Regions from separate parts of the Homo sapiens genome. Here region 2 is linked to region 1. Evidence: fine-mapped QTL for protein levels in blood plasma. Region 1 holds a variant in brackets. A gene starts in the other region. All regions are shown on their reverse strands.

Region 1 (5,370 bases):
CTGGAGTGCAGTGGCATGATCCCTACTCAATGCAACCTCCACCTCCTGGGTTCAAGCAATTCTCTGCTTCAGCCTCCCGAGTAGCTGGGATTATAGGCACCTGCCACCACGCCCAGCTAATTTCTTTGTATTTTTAGTAGAGACAGGGTTTCACCATCCTGGCCAGCCTGGTCTTGAACTCCTGACCTCATGATCCACCTGTCTCGGCCTCCCAAAGTGCTGAGATAACAGGTGTGAGCCACCGTGCCCTGCTGATTTATTTATTTTTTTATAGAATTTATTGGCCAGGCGTGGTGGCTCATGCCTGTAATCCTAGCACGTTGAGTGGCCGAGGTAGGAGGATCACTTGAGGCCAGGAGTTCCAGACCAGCCCAGGGGAGACCCTGTCTCTACAAAAAATAAAATTAGCTAGACGTGGTGGTGCATGCCTGTGTTCTTAGTTACTCTGGAGGCTGAGGTGGGAGTATTGCTTGAGCCCAGGAGTTTGAGGCTGCAGTGAGCTATGATTGCACCACTGCACTCCAGCCTGGGAAACACAGCAACACCCTATCTCAAAAAAAAAAATATTACACTCTGGTCTGTCTATTCTATTGTCTGTTCACCGCCCCCCACCACCATCTTCAGAATATTAGCTCCTCGCCTACCTTGAAAAGCGCTGTGTTCCTGTGTAGAACGGCGCCGGGCGCACAGTAGGCGCTTGCCCAAGAACCGTACTCCCAGGTGGCCACGTTGTCTCCAAGCACCGCAGCCCTCTACGTGTGGACGTGAGGCCTCAGCGCCCCCTCGTGGCTATGTGAATTGGTTTTATTTTATTTTATTTCTTTGTTTTGTTTTTTTTTTTTAATTTTCGTTTCTCCTTTTTACTTTTTCTGTTTTGTTTCTTTGTTTGTTTTTTGAGACAGAGTTTTTGCTCTTGTCCCCCATGCTGGAGCGCAATGGCGCGATCTCGGCTCACTGCAACTTCCACCTCCCAGGTTCAAGCGATTCTCCTGCCTCAGCCTCCTGAGTAGCTGGGACTACACACGCGCCACCATGCCTGGCTAATTTTTGTATTTTTAGTAGAGACGGGATTTCACCATATTAGTCAGGCTGGTCTCAAACTCCTGACGTCAGGTAATCCACTCACCTCGGCCTCCCAAAGTGCTGGGATTACAAGCGTGAGCCACCGCACCCGGCTGTTTTGTTTTCATATCTTATCTTTTTTTTTTTTTTTTTTTTTTTTTTTTAGAAAGGGGTCTTGCTCTGTCGCCCAGGCTGGAGCACAGCAGCACTATGATAGCTCACTGCAGCCTCGAAATCCTGAGTTCAAGCGATCCTACCTGCTTCAGCCTCCTGAGTACCTGGGACTACAGGCACCCGCATCATGCCCGGCTTGAAGTGGTTTTTGTTTGTTTGTTTGTTTTGAGACTGAGAATCGCTCTGTCACTGAGGCTGGAGTGCAGTGGCATGATCTCGGCTCAATGCAATCTCCGCCTCCCGGGTTCAAGCGATTCTCCTGCCTCAGCCTCCTCAGTAGCTGGGATTTCAGGCACGCGCCACCATGCCCGGCTAATTTTTGTATTTTTAGTAGAGACGGGGTTTCGACATGTTGGTCAGGCTGGTCTCGAACTCCTGACCTCATGATCTGCCCAAGAGTTTGCAGTGAGCCGAGATCCTGCCATTGCACTCTGGCCTGGGCCACAGAGCAAGACCTTCCTCTCAAACAAACAAAAAAAAGAATAATGTCTCCAGCTCCATCCAAGTGGCTGCAAAATACATGATTTCATTCCTTTTAACGGCTGTATATGTACCACATTTCCTTTATGCACTCATTGGTTGATGGGCAGAACTTTTTTTTGAGACACGGTCTCACTCTGTTGCCCAGGCTGGAGTGCAGTGGAACCATCATAGCTCACTGCACCCTCAAACTCCTGAGCTCAGGTGATCCTCCCACCTCAGCCTCCCAAGTAACTAGGACTACAGGCACGTGTCATCACACCTAATTTTTTTTTCCTTAGACGAAGTCTCGCTGCTGCCCACTGTGCCCGCCCACAGCAATCTTCATCAAAATTCCAGATGAACTTTGGGAGGCTGAGGCGGGTGGATCACCTGAGGTTAGGCGATCGAGACCAGCCTAACCAACATGGTGAAACCCCATGTCTAGTAAAAATACAAAAATTAGCAGAGTGTAGTGGTGCATGCCTGTAATCACAGCTACTTGGGAGGCTGAGGCAGGAGAATTGCTTGAACCCAGGAGGCGGAGGTTGCAGTGAGCCGAGATTGTGCCGCTTGGGTTCAAGCAATTCTCCTGCCTCAGCCTCTTGAGTAGTTGGGATTACAGGCATGAACCACCACGCCCGGCTAATTTTTTTGTATTTTTAGTAGAGAAGGGGTTTCATCATATTGGTCAGGCTGGTCTCGAACTCCTGACCTCATGTGATCCACCCACCTTGGCCTCCCAAAGTGCTGGGATTACAGGCGTGAGCCACCGCGCCCAGCCTTGGAGGCCATTATTCTAAGTAAAGTAACTGAGGAATGGAAAACCACAAACCGTATGTTCTCACTTGTAAGCGGGAGCTAAGGTATGAGGACACAATGGCATAAGAATGATATAATGGACTCTGGGACTTGGGGCAGGGAAGGTTGGGAGGTGGTGAGGGATAAAGACTACATACTGGATACAGTGTACACTCTTCCAGTGACAAGTGCACTAAAATCTCAGAAGTCACCACTAAAGAACTTATCCATGCCAGGCGCGGTGGCTCACGCCTGTAATCCCAGCACTTTGGGAGGCCGAGGCGGGTGGATCACGAAGTCAGGAGATTGAGACCATCCTGGCTAATATGTTGAAACCCC[G/A]TCTCTATTAAAAATACAAAAAAATTAGCCAGGCATGGTGGCGGGCGCCTGTAGTCCCAGCTACTCAGGAGGCTGAGGCAGGAGAACGGCATGAACCCGGGAGGCGGAGCTTGCAGTGAGCCGAGATCGCGCCACTGCACTCCAGCCTGGGTGACAAAGCAAGACTCCATCTCAAAAAAAAAAAAAAAAAAAGAGCTTATCCATGTAACCAAAAACCACCTGTACCCCAAAACTATTGAAATTTTTTAAAAAATTTAAAAATAATCCTACTAAAGTGTCCCTATGTAGCAGCACATACAAAAATAGACTCCAGATAGAATAAAGACCTAAATGTAGAGTATAACAATTGAGTTGGCTGGGCGCAGTGGCTCACACCTGTAATCCTAGCACTTTGGGAGGCCGAGGCAGGTGGATTGCTTGAGCTCAAGAGTTTGAGACCAGCCTGGGCAAGACGGTGAAACCCCGTCTCTACTAAAATACAAAAAATTAGCAGGACGTGGTGGCATGCACCTGTAATCCCAGCTACTCGGGAGGCTGAGGCAGGAGAATTGCTTGAACCCGGGAGGTGGAGGTTGCAGTGAGCCGGGATCACACCACTGCACTCCAGCCTGGGTGACAGATGGAGACTCCGTCTCAAAAAACACAAAAAAAACAACAAAAAACACCAATGGAGTTGATTATGGAAAATGGAAGAGAATATCACTGTGACATGCCAAATTATTTCTCACTCTCCCATCAAAAGGTGGTGTCTCATTCCCTTCCCCTTGTATTTTTTTTCTTTGAGACAGAGTCTCACTCTTTTTGCCCAGGCTGGAGTGCAGTGGCGCAATCTTGACTCACTATAATCTCTGCTTTCCGGGTTCAAGTGATTCTTGTGCGTCAGCCTCCTAAGTAGCTGGATTACAAGCGTGTGCCACCATGCCCGGCTAATTTTTGTATTTTTAGTAGAGATGGGGTTTTGCCATATTGTCCTGGCTGGTCTCGAACTCCTGACCTCAGGTGATCCGCCCCCCTAGGCCTCCCAAAGTGCTGGCAACTCTCTGTCTTCTGCAAGTGTGTGCCCTCATTGGTTAGCATGGTTGGAGGAAACACAAGTTTTCACTTTAAATTCCTGACCCTCCCCTCCAGGCGTCCACTGGGGTGGGAGCCACGCTCCATACCTCCCTTGCTCATAGTGAGGGTTCCAAGTGTGTCTCTCTCCTTTCCCCATCCTTGCTCACAAGCTTCACTAGAAGAGAACACCCTAATTCCCTCGTCTCCTGCCGACTGCCCCACCTCCTGGCTTCTGTGCTGGTAAGTGCTTTTGGGTCCTGTTGGGATGGATCAGCTGTCTCTAACGTCACCCCCCTTGGGGATTTCCCCCATTTTCTTTTTTTTTTTTTTCTTTTTTGAGATGGGGTCTCTGTCACCCAGGCTGGAGTGCAGTGGCACCATCATGGCTCCCTGAAACCTCAACCTCCTCGGGCTCAGATGATCCTCCCACCTTAACCTCCCAAGTAGTAGCTGGGATTACAGGCACGTGCCATCATGCCCGGCTACCTTTTTTTTTTTTTTTTTTTTTTTTGTAGAGACGGGGTTTTGCCATGTTGCCCAGGCTGGTCTCGAGCTCCTGGGCTGAAGTGATCTGCCCACCTCGGCCTCCCAAATTGAGCCACCGTGCCTGGCCTATTTTCCCCATTTTCTCTTGCTTCCTGAAGGTCATTGCTCCAGCAGGTCCCCAGCCCCCACGTACTCATTCCCACGGGCACACAGACACATCGTCACTTCTTCCACATTAAAACAAAATCACAACAAAAACTCTCTGGACTTCCTCCAGCTCCAGCCCCATTTCTCCGTTTCCTTTTACAGCAAAATTTCTCACAAGAGACGTTCTCAGTTCTCTCTTACACCATTTCCAATCAAATGTTCACATCTTGCTGTTCCTACTCTGGAAATGCTCTTGTCGGGGTCCCCATGGTGTTGGGTCCAACATCACACCTCCTGCTTGTCTTGACCTCTCAGCTACATCCGGTGCAACACTGGCTCCCACTCCCCTGAATGCTTTCTTTCTTTCTTTTTTCTTTTGAGATGGAGTTTTGCTCTTGTTGCCCAGGCTAGAGTGCAATGGCGTGATCTCAGCTCATCGCAACCTCTGCCTCCTAGGTTCAAGTGATTCTCCTGCCTCAGCCTCTGGAGTAGCTGGGATCATAGGCGGGTGCCACCACGCCCGGCAGTTCTGTAATTTTAGTAGAGATTGGGTTTCTCCATGTTGGTCAGGATGGTCTCAAACTCCCAACCTCAGGTGATCCACCCACCTAGGCCTCCCAAAGTGCTGGGATTACAGGCATAAGCTACCGTGCCCAGCGAATATTTTCTTTTCTTTTCTCTTTTTTTTTTTTTTTTTTTTTTGAGACAGAGTCTTACTCTGTCGCCCAGGCTGGAGTGCAGTGGCTCGATCTTGGCTCACTGCAACCTCCACCTCCCTGGTTCAAGCAATTCTCCTGCCTCAGCCTTCCGAGTAGCTGGGATTACAGGCACGCACCACCATGCCCAGCT
Region 2 (5,370 bases), not on the chromosome of region 1:
GAACCCAGGAATCCTTGGGGGTGGTGGGAGGAGCGGACAATAAAGGTGTAAACACAGGTACCTGTGTGGCCTTGTGGCATCGCCGTGGGCAGGCTGAGGGGCTGGGCATCAGAGGCTAAGCGGGAAGCCCAAGGGGGAGGTCCCCTCCCTCCTCCCTCCTCCGGCCTCTGAGTCAGGCCTTGGGCTCTCAGGAAATGTACCCTGATAACCTGGCAGCGATTCCTTCATTCCTGTCCCAGGGCAGGGAAGTCGGGTGGCCAGCTGGCTGTGTGTCACCTGCCCAGTGGAGTCAGCACCCTCGGCACGTGCTGGACATCTCATCCCCTGCTCAGACCCGCTGCCCTCGCTGCCCGCCATAGACACACCTCAATGCACAATGCTCCGATGTATCCCCTGCACACACACAACACTTGGGCCCTTCAAGGGTCTGCCACTTTCACATTCTGCCCAGAACTTGGGTCCCTTATATGTGAACCTCACTCCCTTACCCACTGCTTACCTGCACCTCCCTGCATTCATTCAACCCGTGTTCCCTGGTGGCTACTAAGTCGTGGCACAATTGGGGTCTGATATATAAGCCCACAAAGTCCTCCCAATCTAGTGGGGACACATGTGGACATCCCTGGCTGGGATTGGGAAGATGTCATAGCAGTGATGTTTGAGCACAGAAAAAGGGAAGGTGGTTTCCAGCCAATGAATCTACAATTAAAAAGTAACGCAAAACCAGAGACGAGGTGCGGCAGCTCATGCCTGTAATCCCAGCACTTTGGGAGGATCGCTTGAGGCCAGGCATTCCAGACCAGCCCGGGCAACAAAGCAAGACCCCCATCTCCACTTTTTTTTTTTTGAGACAGAGTCTCATACTGATGCTCAGGCTGGAGTGCAGTGGTGCAATCTCGGCTCACTGCAACCTCCACCTCCTGGGTTCAAGCGATCCTCCTGCCTCAGACTCAAGTAACTAGGATTGCAGACTCAAGACACCATGCCGGACTAATTTTTGTATTTTTATTTAACTTATTTATTTTTAATTTTTTGAGACAGAGTTTTGCTATTGTCGCCCACACTGGAGTTCAATGGCGCAATCTCGGCTCACTACAACCTTCACCTCCCAGGTTCAAGCAATTCTCCTGCCTCAGCCTCCTGAGAAGCTGGGATTACAGGTGCCCACCACCATGCCCAACTAATTTTTGTATTTTTAGTAGAGGTGGGGTGTCTCTATGTTGGCCAGGCTGGTCTTGAACTCCTGACCTCAGATGATCCGCCCACCTCAGCCTCCCAAAGTGCTGGGATTTACAGGCGTGAGCCACTGCATCTGGCCTATTTATTTTATTTATTTATTTATTTTGAGATGGAGTCTCCCTCTGTTGCCCAGGCTGGAGTGCAGTGGCACAATCTTGGCTTCCCAGGTTCAAGCAATTCTCCTGCCTCAGCCTCCCGAGTAGCTAAGATTACAGGTATGCGCCACCACGCCTGGCTAATTTTCTTTGTATTTTTTAGGAGAGACGGGGTTTTACCATGTTGGCCAAGCTGGTCTCAAACTCCTGATCTTGAGAATGATCCTCCCACCTTGGCCTCACAAAGTGCTGGGATTATAGGTGTGAGCCACCACATCCAAGCTCCACAATTTTTTTTGTTTGTTTGTTTTTTGAGACGGAGTCTCGCTCTGTCGCTCAGGCTGGAGTGCAATGGCGCAATATCTCGGCTCACTGCAACCTCCACCTCCTGGGTTCAAGCGATTCTCCTGCCTCAGCCTCCTGAGTAGCTGGAATTACAGGTGCGTGCTACCACGCCTGGCTAATTTTTGTATTTTTAGTAGAAATGGGGTTTCACCATGTTGTTCAGGATGGTCTCAAACTCCTGACCTCGTGATTCGTGTGCCTTGGCCTCCCAAAGTGCCGAGATTAGAGGCGTGAGCCACCACACCCAGCCTCAACAGGTGTTTTGAACGGCCAGAGTGGCCCTCAAGGAGGATACATGCCTCACTCCCACCGCAGCCACACGGCAAGCCTTCTTTCCCTGAGCCTCTGCCCTCTGCACCCCATCCCCCCATCTTCGCCTTACCACCTTTTATAATCCCTTTCGGTCTCAGTTTCCAAGGCAATTCCTCGAGGACCCTTTCACAATGCCAGCCTTTGCCAGGCTGTGGTGTGCTCACGCCATTCTTTTTCATCACTATTCCTAGCTTGAAATTATTGTGTAATTGCAATTTTTTTTTTTAAGACAGGGTCTCCCTCTGTTGCCCAGGCTGGAGTGCAGTGGCGTGATCATAGCTCAATGCTTCGTTGAACTCCTGGGCTCAAGCAATCCTCCTGCCTCAGCCTCCCAAATAGCTGGAACCATAGGCATGCGCCACAATGCCTGCCTAATTTTTATATTTCTTTGTAGAGATGAGGCCTCGCTATATTCCCCAGGCTGGTCTGGAACTCCTGGCTTCAAGTGATGCTCCAGCCTCAGCCTCCCAAAGCCGACTAGCCACCTTGCCAGCCTGTTTGTGATTATTTGATTGAAGTGTGTCACCCCTACTTCACCATGAGCTCAGGGCTCAAGGGGGACGGGGCTGGTGCCTGTTTTGTCCTGGACACCTGGGAACATCATAGGCACTTAGGAAATGTCTGTGGGATGATTGGTGCTGCTCCACAAGCTCGCCACCACCCATGAGGTGCAGGCATCGCAGAAAGGGCCTGGCAGGGGACAGACCATAGTGTCTTAAGCTCCCATAACCAGCCTAAGGAGGGAGGGAAGAAGGGAGGAGTGGCTGTGGCTCCAGATAATAAAAGCTGGGGCCAGGCCCTGGGGGGCATAACTGGCCTGAGATAACCTGAAAGACCTGAGGCGGAGGAGAGTCGTCACATTCCAGGGAGACTGCACACACACACAAACCACATGCACGTGCATGCACGCACACTCAGACACACACACTACACACACAGGGACACACACAGCCTACACATGTGCACATACAGCCTGTACATGCACACACACACACATACCACACCACATAAGAGGACACACACAGCCTACACAGGCATACACACACACCACATACACACTACACACCGGGACACACACACAAAAGGCCTATGCATGTGCACACACATACACACGGACACATACATGCACACACACGGGCCTGCAGCTCTGAAAGGACTCATGACTTTGGTGGCAAGAGGAGCTGGCGGAGCCCAGCCAGTGGGCGGGGCCAGGGGAGGGGCGGGCAGGTAGGTGCAGCCACTCCTGGGAGGACCCTGCGTGGCCAGACGGTGCTGGTGACTCGTCCACACTGCTCGCTTCGGATACTCCAGGCGTCTCCCGTTGCGGCCGCTCCCTGCCTTAGAGGCCAGCCTTGGACACTTGCTGCCCCTTTCCAGCCCGGATTCTGGGATCCTTCCCTCTGAGCCAACATCTGGGTCCTGCCTTCGACACCACCCCAAGGCTTCCTACCTTGCGTGCCTGGAGTCTGCCCCAGGGGCCCTTGTCCTGGGCCATGGCCCAGAAGGGGGTCCTGGGGCCTGGGCAGCTGGGGGCTGTGGCCATTCTGCTCTATCTTGGATTACTCCGGTCGGGGACAGGTAAGTGAGGACGTGGGGGCAGGGTGGGGACAATGCACTGGAGGGAGCCGGCGTGATCATTTTCTGGGGTGTGCCCTTGTCTGGGGCCCAAGAAAACCCCCGGCCTCCCTAGCTCTTGGCCTCTCTTTCCCACCTTGGCTCTGTCAGGGAAGGGGCCAGCCCTCTGGAGCAGTGGTGGGTACTAAGGGGTCAGGGAACCCGAGTCTTCCCTACTCACCCCTCCTCTTTCTCTTTCTTTCTAGGAGCGGAAGGGGCAGAAGGTGAGACTTTCCTCGGAGAGGGAGGAGGGGAGGGGGAGGTGACTTGGATCGGATTCCCCTGGGGTTTAACCAGTGCCTGGCCTTCAGCTGGGCTGCCTTCCAACTAGATTCTCTTAGGGCTCCCAGAGTGGGGGGTTTTAGCCCTCACCTTATGGGCAGAGAAGCAGGGACTTGCCCAGGGCACACTGCCAGTGAAGGTGCAGCTGGGATTCAGATCCACGTCTGACTCCCAAAGTGGGGCAATCGAGGTGGTTTTTTTGGTTTGGTTTTTGTCTTTTGAAACAGGGTCTGGGTCTGTCGTCACCCAGGCTGGAGTGCAGTGGCCCGATCGCAGCTCACTGCAGTCTCAGTGATCCAGCCTCCCGGGCTCACGTGATCCTCCCACCTCCCCACCTCAGCCTCCCTAGTGGCTGGGACTACAGGTGCATGCCATCACACCCAGCTAGTTGTGTTTTGTTTTTGTTTTTGTTTTTGTTTGGTAGAGATGTGGGTCTCACTATGTTGGCCGGGCAGGTCTTGAACTCCTGGGCTCAAGCGATCCTCCTGCCTTGGCCTCTCAAAGTGCTGGGATTACAGGTGTGAGCCACCGTTCCCATCCTGGAGGTGGTTTTGAGGGAACCAAACCAAGGGTCTCCTTTCTTGGAAGGCACCCAACCCAGCTCTGAGTCAGACCGGCTTTCAATCCTGGCTTCCCCATGCACTGGCTGTGTGTCATTGGCCAAGTCCCCCCACTTCTCTAAGCCTTAGACTCCTCACCTCTAAAATGAAGCTGGTCATGTCCGTCTCCTGGGGCTGTGGAGAGGATGCAGGGAGATGAGGAAGCGAAAGCCCCTCCAGGGCCTGGCACAGCCGCTAGGCTCTCTAAATAGTGGCTATTGTCATGATGATAAGGGAGAGAAAGATCTGGTCTGCAATTTTCTCTGCTCCTAGATGACTTTGTGAAGAGCAGTTGGGCTCCACTCCAAAGTGGCCTCAATGGGGGTGGGGCTGGGGCTGTCCTGGAAACTAGACATTCACATCACAGGAGCCCAGTTCTGCTGTTGGTTTGTTGAATATATGTCCACGACGCCACAGGCACTGCAGACATGAGAATCTGCCCCTAGGGAATGCCCAGATTGGTGTGGTGGAAACAGACACAGTTGTGGACTCCGGAACAATTGTGAGACTGGGCAGCATCGGGGAGCATGGTGGAGGTTGGGGGGTGCTGGGCTCGGAGGCAATGCCCAACTCAGCCAGCAGAAGCCCGCCTGTCTACGGAGGGGCTGCTGTTCCAATCAAGCATCCACAGGCAAAGGGAAGTTTGCCAGACAGTAAGGATGGGGAAGGGCATACCAGGTAGAGTGACCTGGATCAGCCAAGGTCCCGGGTAAACAAGTGTGTGGCCTGATGTACACAACTGAAGGGTCCAGAGGGGACGGCTGGGTCCGATGGCGGTGCCATGGTCTGTCTGGAATGTATCTTAAGGACCGCGTGGAGCCAAGAAGGGTTTAAGCAGGGCTGTGGCCTGGTCAGATTGGGGGTTTATGAAAATCTTCAGACTT

Alleles and levels. Positions count from the first base shown, and alleles are read on the strand shown. Strength reflects both the effect of a copy and how common the allele is.
For the plasma level of the protein whose gene starts at base 3,256 in region 2, allele G in region 1 goes with a higher level than allele A (weak association).

The links. A credible set is the group of variants that fine-mapping cannot tell apart. PIP is the posterior inclusion probability: the model's chance that the variant is causal. Protein levels are from antibody-based Olink assays in UK Biobank. Linkage for the fine-mapping came from a reference panel and not from the study's own genotypes, which makes the PIPs less certain.
Region 2: it holds the start of PRSS8, and the variant in region 1 is the best candidate, but not a certain one, in a credible set for the plasma level of the PRSS8 protein (UK Biobank, PIP 0.59).

What each region holds. Positions count from the first base shown.
Region 1 is chr19:38,239,409-38,244,778 of GRCh38, reverse strand. No RefSeq gene overlaps it. Among named protein-coding and RNA genes, the nearest start is that of PPP1R14A, 14 kb to the left of the region's middle. RefSeq lists an enhancer at 1-535. The variant G/A (reference allele first, on the strand shown) is at 2,836.
Region 2 is chr16:31,133,613-31,138,982 of GRCh38, reverse strand. It overlaps PRSS8 (serine protease 8), which reads left to right and starts at 3,256. Exons shown (of 6, transcript NM_002773.5): 1 at 3,256-3,569; 2 at 3,812-3,829. The coding sequence starts at 3,485. It overlaps PRSS36 (serine protease 36), which reads left to right. Exons shown (of 15, transcript NM_173502.5): 15 at 1-57. RefSeq lists enhancers at 1-507, 4,195-5,141.